4 linked regions of the Homo sapiens genome follow. The protein of the gene in region 1 interacts with the protein of each later gene in a pairwise test. Each region holds a gene or a part of one and is shown in the gene's direction. Other genes may lie near its edges.

Region 1 (4,211 bases):
GTGCAAGCCTGTAATTCCAGCTACTCCGGAGGCTGAGGCAGGAGAATTGCTTGAACCCAGGGGCGGGGGAGGAGGTTGCAGTGAGCCGAGATCGCACCACTGCATTCCAGCATGGGCGAAAAGAGCGAAACTCCGTCTAAAAAAAAAAAAAAAGTATAATGGAGGCAATAGAGCCACAGGAGCAAAGCAGGGTGAAAAGCTTAATTTCACCAAGGTGGTGATCTGGGAAGGTTTCCAGAGGAAATTTTTATTTCCTCCAAAATAAAGTGTATATATATATATATACTTTATATATATATAAATATATTTTTTGTTGTTGTTGTTTTTGTTTATTTGTTTTGAGAGGAGGCCTCACTCTGTTGCCCAAGCTGGAGTACAGTGGCGAGATCTCGGCTCACTGCAACCTCTGCCTCCTGGGTTCAAGCAATTCTCCTGCCTCAGCCTCCCGAGTAGCTGGGATTACAGGCGTGCACCACCATGCCCAGCTAATTTTTGTACTTTTAGTAGAGACGGAGTTTCGCCAGGTTGGCCTGGGTGGCCTCGATATCCTGACTTCTGTTGCCCAGAGTGATCATGGCTCACTGCAGCCTCGACGACCTGGGCTCAAGTGATCCTCCCATCTCAGCCCCCAGAGTATCTGTGACTACAGTCACGTGCCACCACGGCCGGCCTCCTGTATTCTTATATGTATACAATATCTCACAATTAAAGGGTAAATAAATATAAGATCTAGTCAAGGGTATTGGGAGGACTGGCCTAGATATTTCTTTCACTAAACTAAATTTTAACTCTTAAGAAATGTTCACAATAAAATTGTTATCATAGTCCATAAAATCGGTCTTTTTAGTTGCCACAATTATAAGAAGTTGCATACAATTACAAGAGTAAAACAGAATTATAAGACAGCACGTTAGGTTTAAGATTTATGGCCGGGTGCGGCGGCTCACGCACTTTGGGAGCCCGAGGCGGGCGGATCGCACTTTGAGAGACCAGGAGAGCGGGACCCAGTCTCTACAAAATAAAAATAAAAATAAAATGTGGGGAGAGCGTGACGTTTTCCAGGTACAGAGGGGAGGTCCAGGCAGAAGCGCAGGTAGAAAGTGTGAATATGCTGAGCGTATTCCGGGAGCAGCAAGTTAAGCCGGTGTGACCGGAGGGAAATGGAGGCCTGGCTGCCGGACGGTGAGGGTGACTGCGCGAGCGTCCGCCCAAGAAGTCTCCCTGCCTTCCCGCCTTTCCCCTGTCTTGGGCCCCTTCTTGCTTTCCTTTCGCGCTCTGTGCTGACTCCGCCCCTCCGGCGGCGCCCGTGGCCCCGCCCCTGAGGGAAACAGACAAGGGGCGGGGCCGGCGCGGTCATCTCTCTGCGCCTTCCCGCAGGGCGCCGAGCACCTGGCGCCGCCTGCCTGACGTCACGGTCACTGACAGCGTGAGCCCGCGGCGGCTGCTGCCATGGTGGCTGGCGGCCGGGTAAGGGTCTGAGTGGATCTCCTGCCAGGCCAGAGCGCCTTCGGGGGCCGCGGCGGAAGGCCAGGAGTTTGCAGCCAGGGCGCCGGGTTTGTGGTCTGCAGTGTCGTGAGGCTGAGGTGGGGGTTGAAGGCCCAGAAGCCGGACTCTGTGACCCGGGTCGGGGGGTGTACTGGAGGGGCGGCTACGTCCAGGCTGGGTGAGAAGAGAGGCAGTGGGGCCCAGGAGGCTGGAGGAAGCCTTAGGGTTCAGACTGGGGTGCACGTAGTCGAGAGCTCAGGGTTTGGGCAAGGGGATACCTGCCGGGGTTCAGCCTTGAGGGTGGGTTTACCGGGTTCACGAATCTCTCTCTCTCCTTACCCCCGCCCGCCCGCCCGCCTGCCTGCTCCCGGTGACTTCTGCTGGCCGCAGGTGCAGCATGTCTAGACTGGGAGCCCTGGGTGGTGCCCGTGCCGGGCTGGGACTGTTGCTGGGTACCGCCGCCGGCCTTGGATTCCTGTGCCTCCTTTACAGCCAGCGATGGAAACGGACCCAGCGTCATGGCCGCAGCCAGAGCCTGCCCAACTCCCTGGACTATACGCAGACTTCAGATCCCGGACGCCACGGTAGGAGCCCGTCTCCTGAGACCGCGGTCACTGCAGACTAATGGGCCTGAGGTCTGGGCTGCTTTCGGTGGAGACTGTGGGACAGGGTAACGGAGAGAAGTGCTTTAGGGTTTCACTTTTTTGGAAGCTTGTTGAAAAAGCAGTCGTCGGGCTGGGCGCGGTGGCTCACGCCTGTAATCCCAGCACTTTGGGAGGCCGAGGCGGGCGGATCACCTGAGGTCAGGAGTTCAAGACCAGCCTGGCCAACGTTCAACCAGATGTCAACATGGTGAAACCCCATCTCTACTAAAAATACAAAAATTAGCCGGGCGTGGTGGCGCGGCCTGTAGTCCCAGCTACTGGGGAGGCTGAGGCACGAGAATCGCTTGAACCTGGTAGGCGGAGGCCGCAGTGAGCTGAGGTTGCGCCACTGCACTCCAGCCTGGGTGACAGAGTGGGACTCTGTCTCAAAAAAAAAAAAAAAAAAAAAGCAGTCGTGGTTTTCTCTACTCTTTCGCCTGTACTCACAAGAAAGTATATTTCAAAAAGACTGTTTAACTTTCACTTTTAGTTCTGGCCACAATAGTGCTATGTGGGTATTAAAGGCACTTGCTTAGTGTTGGGTGAGGTGTGTAATAAGTAGAGGAAGAGTCCAAAAGAGGGCAAAAAGAATAATCTTGTAGGGATTAAAAGTCTTGAGGCTTATGTATTAAATCATATATTAGAATTTGAAGACAACTTGGCAACTATCAAGACAACTTGGCAACTATCTCATTCAAGTTTTTTTTTCTTTTTATCCCTCCTATGAGGAAACCAAGATTCAAAAAGATGGTATAACTTTCCTGAGGCTGTCACAGATTAAGTGGCAAGGTTGGGCCTGGTCACCTGGTCCAGTGGACTTTCTACGGCATAGGGCTAGGAGCACGCTTAATGCAATTGAAGCTGAATGTGGCTGGCAGCCTGTACAGCTGAAATGAGTAGTTCTTGCAGATTTGTCAATTCATTTGAGCAAAGGATCTAGGGCTGGTTCAAACTACTACCATCTTTGTGCAAGAGGAGTGTTTTTTTTCTTTTCTTTTCTTTTTTCTTTTCTTTTCTTTTTTTTGAGATGGAGTCTCGCTCTGTTGCCCAGGCTGGAGTGCAGTGGCATGATCTTGGCTCACTGCAACCTCCGCCTCCCTGGGTTCAAGTGATTCTCGTGCCTCAGCCTCCCGAGTAGCTGGGATCACAGGTGCGTGCCACCATGCCCAGCTAATTTTTGTATTTTTAGTAAAGATGGGGTTTCCCCATGTTGGCCAGGCTGGTCTCCAACTCCTGGCCTCGGCCTCCTAAAGTGCTGGGATTACAGGCGTGAGCCACCACACCTGGCCAAGAGGAGCGTTTACATTATCTCACTCCCATGCTAATTGGAAATGAGTGTTTTCTCTGATTGCCAATGTTAGATGGTTTGGAAAAGTTAGTTTTGGAGTCTTCAAAGAGCTATCAGCTTAGATTGCAAATGATTGTCAGCATTTTATAATCTTGTGGTAATCTAGTATTGGAGTGTGCTTCCTTCCCTTGTATTTTGTTTGTAATTGCTTCGCAGTAGTGTTTCTTCTGAGATTAGAAGAAAGTGGCCACATTGCCAGGGATCTTTCTTGCACTACATTCTTGAGCATTATTGGATGTATGTTGTGGCCTGGCCTAGTTTTTTACCAGATTTCCTTTAAGAAGGGATTTATGCTTGCCGTATTGTAGGGTCCTGCCTCTCTGGTTTCTTTTTTGTTTTTGCATTTTCCAGTTCAGTTACCATAGGTGGCTGTCACTTTGCTAGCATTTCACTGCTGGAATTTACTCTGAGATCTAGGGTTGGGTCAGCAGGGCTTAGTGACGGTGTCTTTCTGAGGCAGTTTGGATGGGCTTTTTCTGGTGTACCTTTTCTCTTAATAACTGCCCCCTTTCTCCTAGTCCTTCTCTGATATACTAAATGAAGTTCTGGGAGAAACTCCAAGTTTTCCCTACTATTATTTGTGAAGTGAGAGATCAGAATTTGAGGGAGCTCAGTTTTAGTTTTAGTTTTGCTATGTGGTTGGTATTGACTCCTTGGTATTGGGCACTATATGGTGAGGTGAAGGTTTTTGTTTTTTTTTAACTCTAGCAGGACAGCTGTCCTCCTTCAGGTTC
Region 2 (3,500 bases), on another chromosome or scaffold:
AGTTACAGTTGCTGTTTTCAGATGGCTGTCCTGAATCTATAAGGTAGCCCCCTGAATGACAGATAAGTCACTCTGACCGCCTTTTTTTTTCTCTCCCACTTCTGGACCTCTGCAGGTGTCTGGTTGAGAAGGGAGATGTGGCCTTTGTGAAACACCAGACTGTCCCACAGAACACTGGGGGTAAGTGCACCTGCTCCTCTGTCCCCCTAGATCACTAGATCCTGGTCACTGGTATTCACTTGTATTCAGGGATGCCTTTGTGGAAGTATTATGTACACTGTCAGACTTCAAAGCTCTGATTCTCAGTCTGTCTGCTCAGTGAAGAGAGACATGTTCACCTGAGTGCGCAGAATGATCAGGATTATGGGGCCCCCAATGGCCCTAAATCCTCCCCAACACACACTCCCACAGCTGCAAGCCTTGTGCTCCTTTCCCCTAAATACTTCAGTGCCTATTTCCTAAGAATAAGACAATCTCTTGCATACCCACAGTATGATTACCAAGATCAGGATCTTTTACATTATGTGGATTTAATACTCGTCACGTCCACAGTCCACATTTAACTGTTGTCAGTTATCCCAGTAATGCCTTTTATAGCTATTTACTGTACTTCTGGGTTGTGTCCATTGAGAAGGCCTAGAGGCAATGGCATACCAGCAGGAGTAAGCACCAAGATATTGGCTTGTAAGTACTCTTCTTTACTAAAAGGAACCAGAACTCCTTGGAAAAATAGCTGACTTCAGGGCTGGGGCAGGAAAAATAGATGCTGAGCCTAGAACAACACACTGAAGTGCTCAAACAGTGATGGGACACTCAAAGCATACAAGAACCAATTTGAAGGATCTCCTGTTGCCAAGTCTGGGAATTTTGAGCATTAAAATAAATAATGATAGCAGTAAGGGATAATAGCCCATTGAAAGAAATAAGAATGCATGAGGCAATACTGATTAAACAAATGAAGAAGGGAAAACTAATCAATGTGGAAGGAATGATAGAGTTAGAAAACTATCACTTGGCAACCAATATATTGATAACTGATTCAAGCAAGAATCAATGGGTGTTAAGCCGGGCGCAGTGGCTCACGCCTGTAATCCCAGAACTTTGGGAGGCCGAGGCGGGTGGATCATGAGGTCAGGAGATCGAGACCATCCTGGCCAACAAGGTGAAACCCCGTCTCTACTAAAAATACAAAAAATTAGCCGGGCGCGGTGGTGGGCGCCTGTAGTCCCAGCTACTCGGGAGGCTGAGGCAGGAGAATGGCGTGAACCTGGGAAGCGGAGCTTGCAGTGAGCCGAGATTGCGCCACTGCAGTCCGCAGTCCGGCCTGGGCGACAGAGCGAGACTCCGTCTCAAAAAAAAAAAAAAAAAAAAAAAGAATCAATGGGTGTTAACTTGTGGGTGAACGTTGGACAGCCATAATATTAATAAAAACAAACAAAACAAAGCAAAACAAACATTGGCCAGACTGAGCACTCCACACCTGACCCCTCAGTATCACTAAGTGCTAGCAGAGCCCACTGGAATTCAAGCTGTGAATACTTCCCTGCCTTCTCTCATGTTCATTCCCCAACTCCTCACTTTTCCTGGGCAACTCATCCAGAATGAACCGGCTCAGCACCAGCCCCTCCAGGAAGCCTTCCCAGATGGCATACCCTGTCCTACAAGAAGACTCCTCTGTTCATATTGCCATTATGATTGAATTCACCACACTCTGTAATACACTTTGGCTACAGAAACTCTTTGAGCTCTTTTTCTTCATCTTATATTCCCAGAACCTAGTGTAGCACATAGTACACAGCAGTTGCTAAGAATTTGTTTGCAGAAATATTGGGTTGACTAATTTTCCTTTCTTCCCTCGTATTATTGCTTTTTCCTTTAAGAGAGTGTTACCCTAAGCTTGGCTCTTTGCCACCCTTGATTTCTTTTGGTACTTTTCTGAGTAGAGCTCCCTTCTTTAAGCTTTGACTCTCTTACTCTTTGCAATGACTCAAAAATTCTTCCCTCCTGCATAGAATTAAGATAGGAGGCCTGACATCCAATCTCAATTCCATTCCAGTCTATTTCCCAAGGTGTCACTTTTATGTAGAGAGTACATTGGCATTGCAATTGTATTTTTTTACGTGTGTATATGGATGTCCTCATATATTGTAGTTGTATATATACAATCCATATACAACTCAACTGTCCTCATCTTTCTGTCAACGTTCCCTCCTCTTCTCCCAGCCTCTATCCTTATAGAGAATCCTGCTATACTCCCTGCCCATCAGGCCTAGATTAAGTCTGTCAGTCAATATCTTATTTCTTCAAAACGTGTCTTTTTTCAAACTAAATTTTGAAATAATTGTGTGTATTTAAGGTAGACAACATGATTTTTAAGAGCCAAAGTAATTTTGATGTATTGTAAGTTTGGGAACTACTGGTCTAATACCCCTGACTTAATATCACATTCCTGATAAATATTACTAAATGTAAGTCACATCATGTCTGATTCATCATACTTATATTTTGCACCTTCTTACCTTCTTCTGTTATTAATTTGTTGCTTTTTCAACTTATATTTTAGATTGAGGGTACATATGCAGGTTTGTTACATGGTATACTGCATGATGCTGAGGTTTGCGGTATGATTGAACCTGTCACCCAGGTAGTGAGCATAGCACACAACAGGTAGCTTTTCAACTCTTGCCCCCCTCTCTCCCTCCTCCAAAATCTGTCTTAAGTGCTATGGTATATACAAGAAGGAAGACACAAAACCACGTGGGCTTTTTTTTTTTCTTTTTTTTCTTTTTGAGATGGAGTCTCACTTTGTTGCTAGGCTGGAGTGCAGTGATGTGATCTCAGCTCACTGCAAACTCCGCCTCCCAGATTTAAGTGATTCTCCTGCCTCAGCCTCCCAAGTAGCTGGGACTACAGGCGTGCACCACCACGACCAGCTAATTTTTGTATTTTTAGTAGAGACGGGGTTTCACCATGTTGGCCAGGATGGTCTCCATCTCTTGGCCTCATGATCCGCCCACCTCGGCCTCTCAAAAGTGCTGGGATTACAGGTGTGACCCACCGCGCTCAGCCCACATGGGCTCTTTTATCACAATTTGTGTGTGTGTGTGTGTGTGTGTGTGTGTGTATGTGCATATTATAGGTGTGTGTAGGAAAAAGAATGTTAGAAATGTACCAATTTTGAAGGCGTAGACTATGAAATTACAAATGCTTCAAAATTTTCTTCCCAATACTTACGTGGCATTTTATAAATTTCCACCAATAAACGTGTATTATTTTTATTGAAAAAGCATATTTTTAACATGCCCTTCTAGATGCCCTCCTAGCCAGACTGAATCACCTCCCATTTGATTTTTCTTAATTTTCTACCTTTAGGTTCTGGCTCATTCATTAACATCAATTTCCATTCATAAGTCCTCACAAACCCACTTTTCCTCTTGCCTGAGTGCCTCACATACCCTACTGCCTGAGATGGTTCCAGAGGCGGTCTCCTCTCTCCCTTA
Region 3 (3,500 bases), on another chromosome or scaffold:
AGTGCTTCTAGGACGTAGTGGGGAGGGATAAGGAAAAAAATAAGTAGATTATTGGGGATAGTGAATGATAAATCTATTACTACCGAGATTTGAGTTATCTTTTCGATTCACAGAGTACTCAGGGAGTCTCTCAGGTTGCTCCTGCAGAGCCAGTTGCAGTAGCACAGACCCAAGCTACCCAGCCGACCACTTTGGCTTCCTCTGTAGACAGGTACGTAAAACTAGAATTCTCCTTCCTTGACTGGTAAATAAGACGGTATGAAACGCCAAACTGTCAGACCTTTAAATCTCATATTATAAACTGCACTTTTTTTTCTTTTTAAATTTCAAAGTGCACATTCAGATGTTGCTTCAGGTATGAGTGATGGCAATGAGAACGTCCCATCTTCCAGTGGAAGGCATGAAGGAAGAACTACAAAACGGCATTACCGAAAATCTGTAAGGAGTCGCTCTCGACATGAAAAAACTTCACGCCCAAAATTAAGAATTTTGAATGTAAGTATTCCTAATTTGTGAGTTTCATGTTGTTAAAGGAATTTGACACTGAAAAAGATTTTAGAGGTCATCAAATCCAAACCACTCACTTCATAAAATAAAGATAACTATCTGTGTGTGACAGATAATTTTTTTTTTTTTTAGACGGAGTCTCGCTCTGTCGCCCAGGCTGGAGTGCAGTGGCATGATCTCTTCTCACTGTGATTGCAGTGCCTCCTGGGTTCAAGCGATTCTCCTGCCTCAGCCTCCCAAGTAGCTGGGACTACAGACACGTGCCACCACGCACGGCTAGTTTTTGTATTTTTAGTAGAGACAGGGTTTCACCATATTGGTCAGGCTGGTTTCAAACTCCTGACCTCAGGTGACTCACCTGCCTCAGCCTCCCAAACCACTGGGATTACAGGCACCCAGCCAGATAATTTATATAGTACTCTTCTCATTTCATGCCCACAGTCTCTTTGACTTAAATATCACATTTTTAGAAAAATGAAAAGGTAGTTCATAAAGCTATGATAGGGCCAGCAGTTAATATCATTTAAATATTTCTTAAGGCTTAGATGAATTGATGAATGTATAGGATCTTATAATTAGCCAAATGATATTCTTACATTCCATATTTCTATGATAAAGCACTACTTATCTTTTAGAAAAAGAATAGAGAGTTTTAGTAAGTAGCTCAAAGGCTAACGTCTTCTCAAAGATTTTTCTTGCTACCAGTTTAAGAGACAAAGTACTAGTGCTCCAAGGAACAGCGATAACACTATGCTTCCTTAGACATAAAGTCAAGTGCTAATCTGCATTGCTTTTCTGAAATTCAGTAATAAAGCTGAATATGGTCTTTGGAGATGATGTACCTTTTTTCTTTTTAGGTTTCAAATAAAGGAGACCGAGTAGTAGAATGTCAATTAGAGACTCATAATAGGAAAATGGTTACATTCAAATTTGACCTAGATGGTGACAACCCCGAGGAGATAGCAACAATTATGGTACGTCTGCATTTGGAGTTCTAGGTTTTTCCTTAGTACTTGATCTTAATAGCCATTGCTCTAGGCAAATATGCCATATTTTATAATCCATGTTTTTTTAAAGTTATGCATTTACTTCAATGTGAATAAAACTATCACACCCAACCTGTGATTTAGTGATGTTTTTGTCTAGGCTATGTCTAACTAGATATTGAAGTTCTTAAAAAGAGAAGAGCTAACTTGAGTACAAAATAAATAAAAATATAGGTAAGTATGCAGATAGGACAGAAGTCATAAAAGTGACATAAAGTTTGAGAAATGACACTAATTAGACTGACATCACATTTCTTTTACAGGTGAACAATGACTTTATTCTAGCAATAGAGAGAGAGTCGTTTGTGGATCAAGTGCGAGAAATTATTGAAAAAGCTGATGAAATGCTCAGTGAGGATGTCAGTGTGGAACCAGAGGGTGATCAGGGATTGGAGAGTCTACAAGGAAAGGATGACTATGGCTTTTCAGGTTCTCAGGTAGGTTCACCACTCCCATAGTGAAACTTTGTTGATTTAAAATATTTTCATAGTTCTAAATTTGCTATGCAAAATGTCCAGTGATATCACCTGACACCCATGACCGACAACAAACTTTTATGTTCTCTTCACATGTGGCAGTTTGCTTTGCCTAGTCATTGAGATTGCATTTGAGAATGTATTTAATCACTTTTGTTTGTTGTAGAAATTGGAAGGAGAGTTCAAACAACCAATTCCTGCGTCTTCCATGCCACAGCAAATAGGTGAATTTATTTTCTTTCCTTGTTTTTACCTTTGACTTAAGAAGCCATTAGCCGAGGGTGGTGGCAGGCTTCTGTAGTCCCAGCTACTCAGGAGGCCGAGGCACGAGAATCGCTTGAACCCAGGAGGCGGAGGTTGCAGTGAGCTGAGATCGCGCCACTGCACTCCAGCCTGGGTGAGAGAATGAGACCGTGCCTCAAAAAAAGCAGTTGTATGTGCCAATAATGAAGTCTAACAATATTTATAATAATAATGCTATTAAGTTACGTTTGTTTGTTTGTTTTTGACCAGGCATTCCTACCAGTTCTTTAACTCAAGTTGTTCATTCTGCGGGAAGGCGGTTTATAGTGAGTCCTGTGCCAGAAAGCCGATTACGAGAATCAAAAGTTTTCCCCAGTGAAATAACAGATACAGGTAAGGGATTGATTCTGCCACATTGTTATGTAAATTCTACAGTGCCTCTGCTATGTTGAAAGCTTAATCATAAAGCAGTAATTTATGATGACACAGATAATAAAAAAGAATAGAAAACTGAAGTTATAACCAACAGATAAACATATGGGAGAGGGAAATAGATGAAGAATACAGAGAATTACAGAAAAAGCCAAGAAGCACGGCCATACCAAGATATAGTCTGTATAATAGATATTGTAGTATGTGTTTATTTCTGCACTTAGTACTGTTGTCTATGTTTTAAGATTACTCCATATTTTTTATCAAAAACAGATATTTATAGGAGCTGACTTAGGCTAGCAGACAATCTTTTGAATCCATCCTTTTAAAATCAGCTGATTCTTATCTTTTTGTATTCCTTTGCAGTTGCTGCCTCTACAGCTCAGAGCCCTGGAATGAACTTGTCTCACTCTGCATCATCCCTTAGTCTACAACAGGCCTTTTCTGAACTTAGACGTGCCCAAATGACAGAAGGACCCAACACAGCACCTCCAAACTTTAGTCATACAGGACCAACATTTCCAGTAGTACCTCCTTTCTTAAGTAGCATTGCTGGAGTCCCAACCACAGCAGCAGCCACAGCACCAGTCCCTGCAACAAGCAGCCCTCCTAATGACATTTCCACATCAGTAATTCAGTCTGAGGTTACAGTGCCCACTGAAGAGGGGATTGCTGGAGTTGCCACCAGCACAGGTGTGGTAACTTCAGGTGGTCTCCCCATACCACCTGTGTCTGAATCACCAGTACTTTCCAGCGTAGTTTCAAGTATCACAATACCTGCAGTTGTCTCAATATC
Region 4 (4,014 bases), on another chromosome or scaffold:
CCCATCTCATTGCAGACCTCTAGTGTGGTCAGATAGCCAGCCAGCTTTTTAACAATGGGCTCGAGGGCGCAGGTCTTGGCCTGGGCATCACACACGAAGCCCAGGTTGAAGAGGAGAGCATTGCGGCTGTACTTCTTGTGTTCGATGCACACAGGACAGCCGATCAGCTTCTTTTCCATAGCTGTGCTGGATAATTGGAACACAGTCAGGCCCCCAAGCCTGTCCCTTCCTCCTCCTGGGACAACCCCTGCCACCCACCGCTCACCCCGAGCTAGGGTCTCACACAGTGATAAGCTTGTTCTGCAGCTCTGGCTTGGTGATGATGTACACTTGGACTGTGTCAAACAGCTCTCGGGAGATGAAGTCTTCAGGGACCTGGGGAGGGGAGTGGCAATGGGCCCCTCAGTGGACATCTGTACTGGGTGTAGTACAAATGGTGACCTCCTCATGCCCCCCAAGCCCAAGTCCTCTTCTCCAGCGTTCCCCTCTCTCCCATCCACTCAGGCCTATTACTTCTTTCTGTTTCCAAACATACGCTATGATCTCACCTCCTTCCTGGCTTCTGCATATGCTGTTCCCTCTACCTGGAACACTTTCTCCTGCCTTACCTAAACTTCCTATGCATCATTTACTCTTCACTCAGTTCAGGGATACTCATGGGTCACCCAACTCACCTTCTGTGGGACCTGGAACCCCCCAACCGGATCCCTACAGCCCGATATCCTACAAACACTGCCAATGTGACGTATGTCTTCCCTGCCACATTGGGAGCCGGGGGCCTGGGTCTGACTATCCTCTAGCCTCACAGTTGTCTGCGAATGAAGCAGCATGCCTGCGTGCAGCACGGGAAACTACTGCCTTCAGGCAGCCAGTTGAGCTCTCGAGAACGTCCCTCTTCCCGCCCAGTCCCGCGAGCCCGGGTGGCACCTGATAGGTGATCTTGGGTCCCAGCGTGGGGTGGAACTCGCTGAAGAATATGCATTCGATGCGGCAGCCGCTGCCCATGGCAATAACCGGGCCCAGGCCCGTAGCTCCTCGTTCCTCGCGCAGAGGCGTCCCCACCTCCTGTGAACACTTGTCAGAGACAGCCTCGAGGCCTGTGTCGCTGGGGCACGCAAGCTTGCCAATCCCTCTGCCCAATGGCGCCTGCGCAGCGCGACTCAGAGGCGTGGCTGGGGCGGGGGACGGCTCGTCCCAGGAAGTCCTGGGTGGGTAGACGTCGCACCCGGAAGTAAAGCGGCTCCGTGACGGAGCGGCGGTGCGCGCGGCAGGGCCCGGAGTATCCCGCTTTCTTTGGAGGAAACCACCGCATCAGATCTGCGCTGCGGCAGAGGCAGGCAAGTCCCTAGCGTGGAGGGGCAGCATGCTGGCAGCACTTGGGGAGGCGGTGCGCTAAGGGATTCACGCTGTAACTGGGACCGCAGCAGGGAACTACAATTTCCATAGTGCTCCGCGCCCTCCCAGCTGGCTCTACTGCCGGCGACGGCGTGGTACACGCTGGGATTTGTAGTCTTACATGGCTTTGCGCCTCCTACCTGGAAGGCGGGCCAGCGATTGGTACCAGTTCAGACATGGGTACACGTTGACAGGCCGCCGGCCGTCGACTGGCATGTTGTGACCATTCCTGGTGCTGGTCTTGGTACTGTTCTTTCCTACCATAACTTATTGGAAGAGGGTGGCATTCCTGCCTTGCAGCCTTTTCTCCAGTGAGGAGTGAACAGTGGGCACCTGAGATCCTGGCCCACGCTACTATGCTTTCAGGCTACAACCACTAGCACGGCTGACGATGGCCCTTTCTGCGGAGACCGAGTCACACATCTACCGAGCTCTGCGTACTGCTTCTGGCGCTGCCGCCCACCTTGTGGCCCTGGGCTTTACCATCTTTGTGGCTGTGCTTGCCAGGCCTGGCTCCAGTAAGTAGAATTCATAGCTGACTTCTGGGAAGGGAAGGGCCACTGTTCCTGGGGAGGAAGGGCAGTGGGACTTCCGGGAACAGGCCTGGCTGGTTGAGGGAATTCTGTGCTGGAGCGATGAGTGAGGTGGAGCAGGTAGGTATGGCCAGGGCACACAGAATTCCTGGTTTGTCTTTCCTTCTCTGGGTGCTCCATTTGGCTGCCTCTCAGGAGGTGTAAGGGAAGGAGGGAGGACTGCCAGAGGAGTGGCAAAGCATGGCCTCTGATCCAGGAAGAGGCCAGGAAGAGAGGATAGGTGTGGGGTCAGCTTGTTGCAGAGCAAGAAGGGGCTCACAGTTTGGCAGCACCTCCTTGGGTGATGGGCTGCTGGTATTCCTCAACCCTTAAGGATTGGTATGGCTGGTTTCTTCTTGCCTCAGCCCCATGAGGCCTCCTCTTCTCATTCCAGGCCTGTTCTCCTGGCACCCGGTGCTTATGTCTTTGGCTGTAAGTAGTGGGCCTGGGCAGTTCTTAGGGGTGGGAGCATGGGCATGGTTGGTGGCCCTGGCAGCCTCTGAATCTTTGTCCACATTTAATATCTGTTTGGAAGAGTTGCATGCTCCAACTACTCCTGCCCATGGTATATATTTCAGACTTGAGGCTGGGCACGGTGGCTCATGCCTGTAATCCCAGCACTTAGAGGCCGAGGCGGGCACATCACCTGAGGTCAGGAGATCGAGACCATCTTGGCCAACATGGTGAAACCCCGTCTCTACTAAAAATACAAAAAATTAGCCGGGCATGGTGGCACGCGCCTGTAGTCCCAGCTACTCGGGAGGCTGAGGCAGGAGAATCGCATGAACCCAGGAGACGGAGGTTGCAGTGAGCCAAGATTGCGCCACTGCACTCTAACCTCTAACCTAGGCGACAGAGCGAGGCTCTGTCCCAAAAAAAAAAAAAAACCCAAAAACAAAAAAACCCCCCAAAAAACCAAAAATTAGCTGGGTGTGGTGGCAGGTGCCTGTAATCCCAGTTACTCAGGAGCCTGAGGCAGGAGAATTGCTTGAACCCGGAAGGCGGAGATTGCAGTGAGCCGAGATCAGGCCACTGCACTCCAGCCTGGGTGACAGAGAGAGACTATCTCCAAAAAAAAAAAAAAAAAAAAAAAGAGACTTGAATCAGAGTAATGAAGACCCAGGACCCAGGTCAAATGGGTAAGATTTGTCTAAGCACAATGAGGCTTCACCCACCTCTAGGCAGAAAGCTGAGACATTGCATTTGGATGTACCTCTGTCCCTTTTTACTTTAATTTCTGGTGATGCACCTAACTTTCCCTGAAACAGTGCACCCATGTGGCCAGCTCTTGCCAAGAAATTGTATCCAGCCCCACGTTAGGGAAACAAAGCTTGTGAATCATTTATAACTGCCACATCTCAAACCCTGTGTTTGCTTGGTAACATACGACAGATGACATTTCAGACTGGCACCTAGGAGGAAGTGTGGAGATTATTCAGGGCACATATATCATCCCAGATGGGGTTTTCCACTCTTGCCCCACCAAATGGATAGTCTTGTCAGTGGGGAGAGAAAGAAAAAGGGGAATCAGCCCAGACTCACTGGCAGCTAAGGGTTACATAAAGCCCTCTTCTCCTCTTCTGGGGCAGCACCCTCACTTGAGCTTCCCATCCCCTGTTTCCTCAGTTCTCCTTCCTGATGACCGAGGCACTACTGGTGTTTTCTCCTGAGAGTTCGCTGCTGCACTCCCTCTCACGGAAAGGCCGAGCACGCTGCCACTGGGTGCTGCAGCTGCTGGCCCTGCTGTGTGCACTGCTGGGCCTCGGCCTTGTCATCCTCCACAAAGAGCAGCTTGGCAAAGCCCACCTGGTTACGCGGCATGGGCAGGCAGGGCTGCTGGCTGTGCTGTGGGCAGGGCTGCAGTGCTCAGGTGGGGTGGGGCTGCTCTACCCCAAGCTGCTGCCCCGATGGCCCCTGGCGAAGCTCAAGCTATACCATGCTACTTCTGGGCTGGTGGGCTACCTGCTGGGTAGTGCCAGCCTCTTGCTGGGCATGTGCTCACTCTGGTTCACTGCCTCTGTCACTGGTGCAGCCTGGTACCTGGCTG

Evidence for each region. Proteins that work in one complex are often made in the same cells at the same time.
Region 2: the proteins of RMDN3 (region 1) and TF interact in binary tests that used the Homo sapiens proteins (3 or more experiments, as listed by UniProt).
Region 3: the proteins of RMDN3 (region 1) and WNK1 interact in a two-hybrid assay, tested with the Homo sapiens proteins (one large-scale study listed by IntAct).
Region 4: the proteins of RMDN3 (region 1) and CYB561D2 interact in binary tests that used the Homo sapiens proteins (3 or more experiments, as listed by UniProt).

Annotation. Positions count from the first base shown.
Region 1 is NC_000015.10:40,752,455-40,756,665, reverse strand, and holds the start of RMDN3 (regulator of microtubule dynamics protein 3), read left to right. Parts: upstream 1-1,411; 5' UTR 1,412-1,583; intron 1,584-1,875; 5' UTR 1,876-1,882; coding exon 1,883-2,069; intron 2,070-4,211.
Region 2 is NC_000003.12:133,770,393-133,773,892, forward strand, and holds part of TF (serotransferrin isoform 1 precursor), read left to right. Parts: intron 1-115; coding exon 116-180; intron 181-3,500. UniProt on the Homo sapiens protein: Transferrins are iron binding transport proteins which can bind two Fe(3+) ions in association with the binding of an anion, usually bicarbonate.
Region 3 is NC_000012.12:881,579-885,078, forward strand, and holds part of WNK1 (serine/threonine-protein kinase WNK1), read left to right. Parts: intron 1-113; coding exon 114-211; intron 212-332; coding exon 333-495; intron 496-1,364; coding exon 1,365-1,481; intron 1,482-1,816; coding exon 1,817-1,990; intron 1,991-2,195; coding exon 2,196-2,253; intron 2,254-2,542; coding exon 2,543-2,665; intron 2,666-3,070; coding exon 3,071-3,500. UniProt on the Homo sapiens protein: Serine/threonine-protein kinase component of the WNK1-SPAK/OSR1 kinase cascade, which acts as a key regulator of blood pressure and regulatory volume increase by promoting ion influx.
Region 4 is NC_000003.12:50,349,648-50,353,661, forward strand, and holds the start of CYB561D2 (transmembrane reductase CYB561D2), read left to right. Parts: upstream 1-1,214; 5' UTR 1,215-1,337; exon of another isoform or gene 1,338-1,761; 5' UTR 1,762-1,786; coding exon 1,787-1,913; intron 1,914-2,361; coding exon 2,362-2,399; intron 2,400-3,593; coding exon 3,594-4,014. Other genes in the region: GATOR1 complex protein NPRL2, read right to left, coding at 18-186, 284-375, 675-830. UniProt on the Homo sapiens protein: Transmembrane reductase that may use ascorbate as an electron donor in the cytoplasm and transfer electrons across endoplasmic reticulum membranes to reduce monodehydro-L-ascorbate radical and iron cations Fe(3+) in the lumen of that compartment.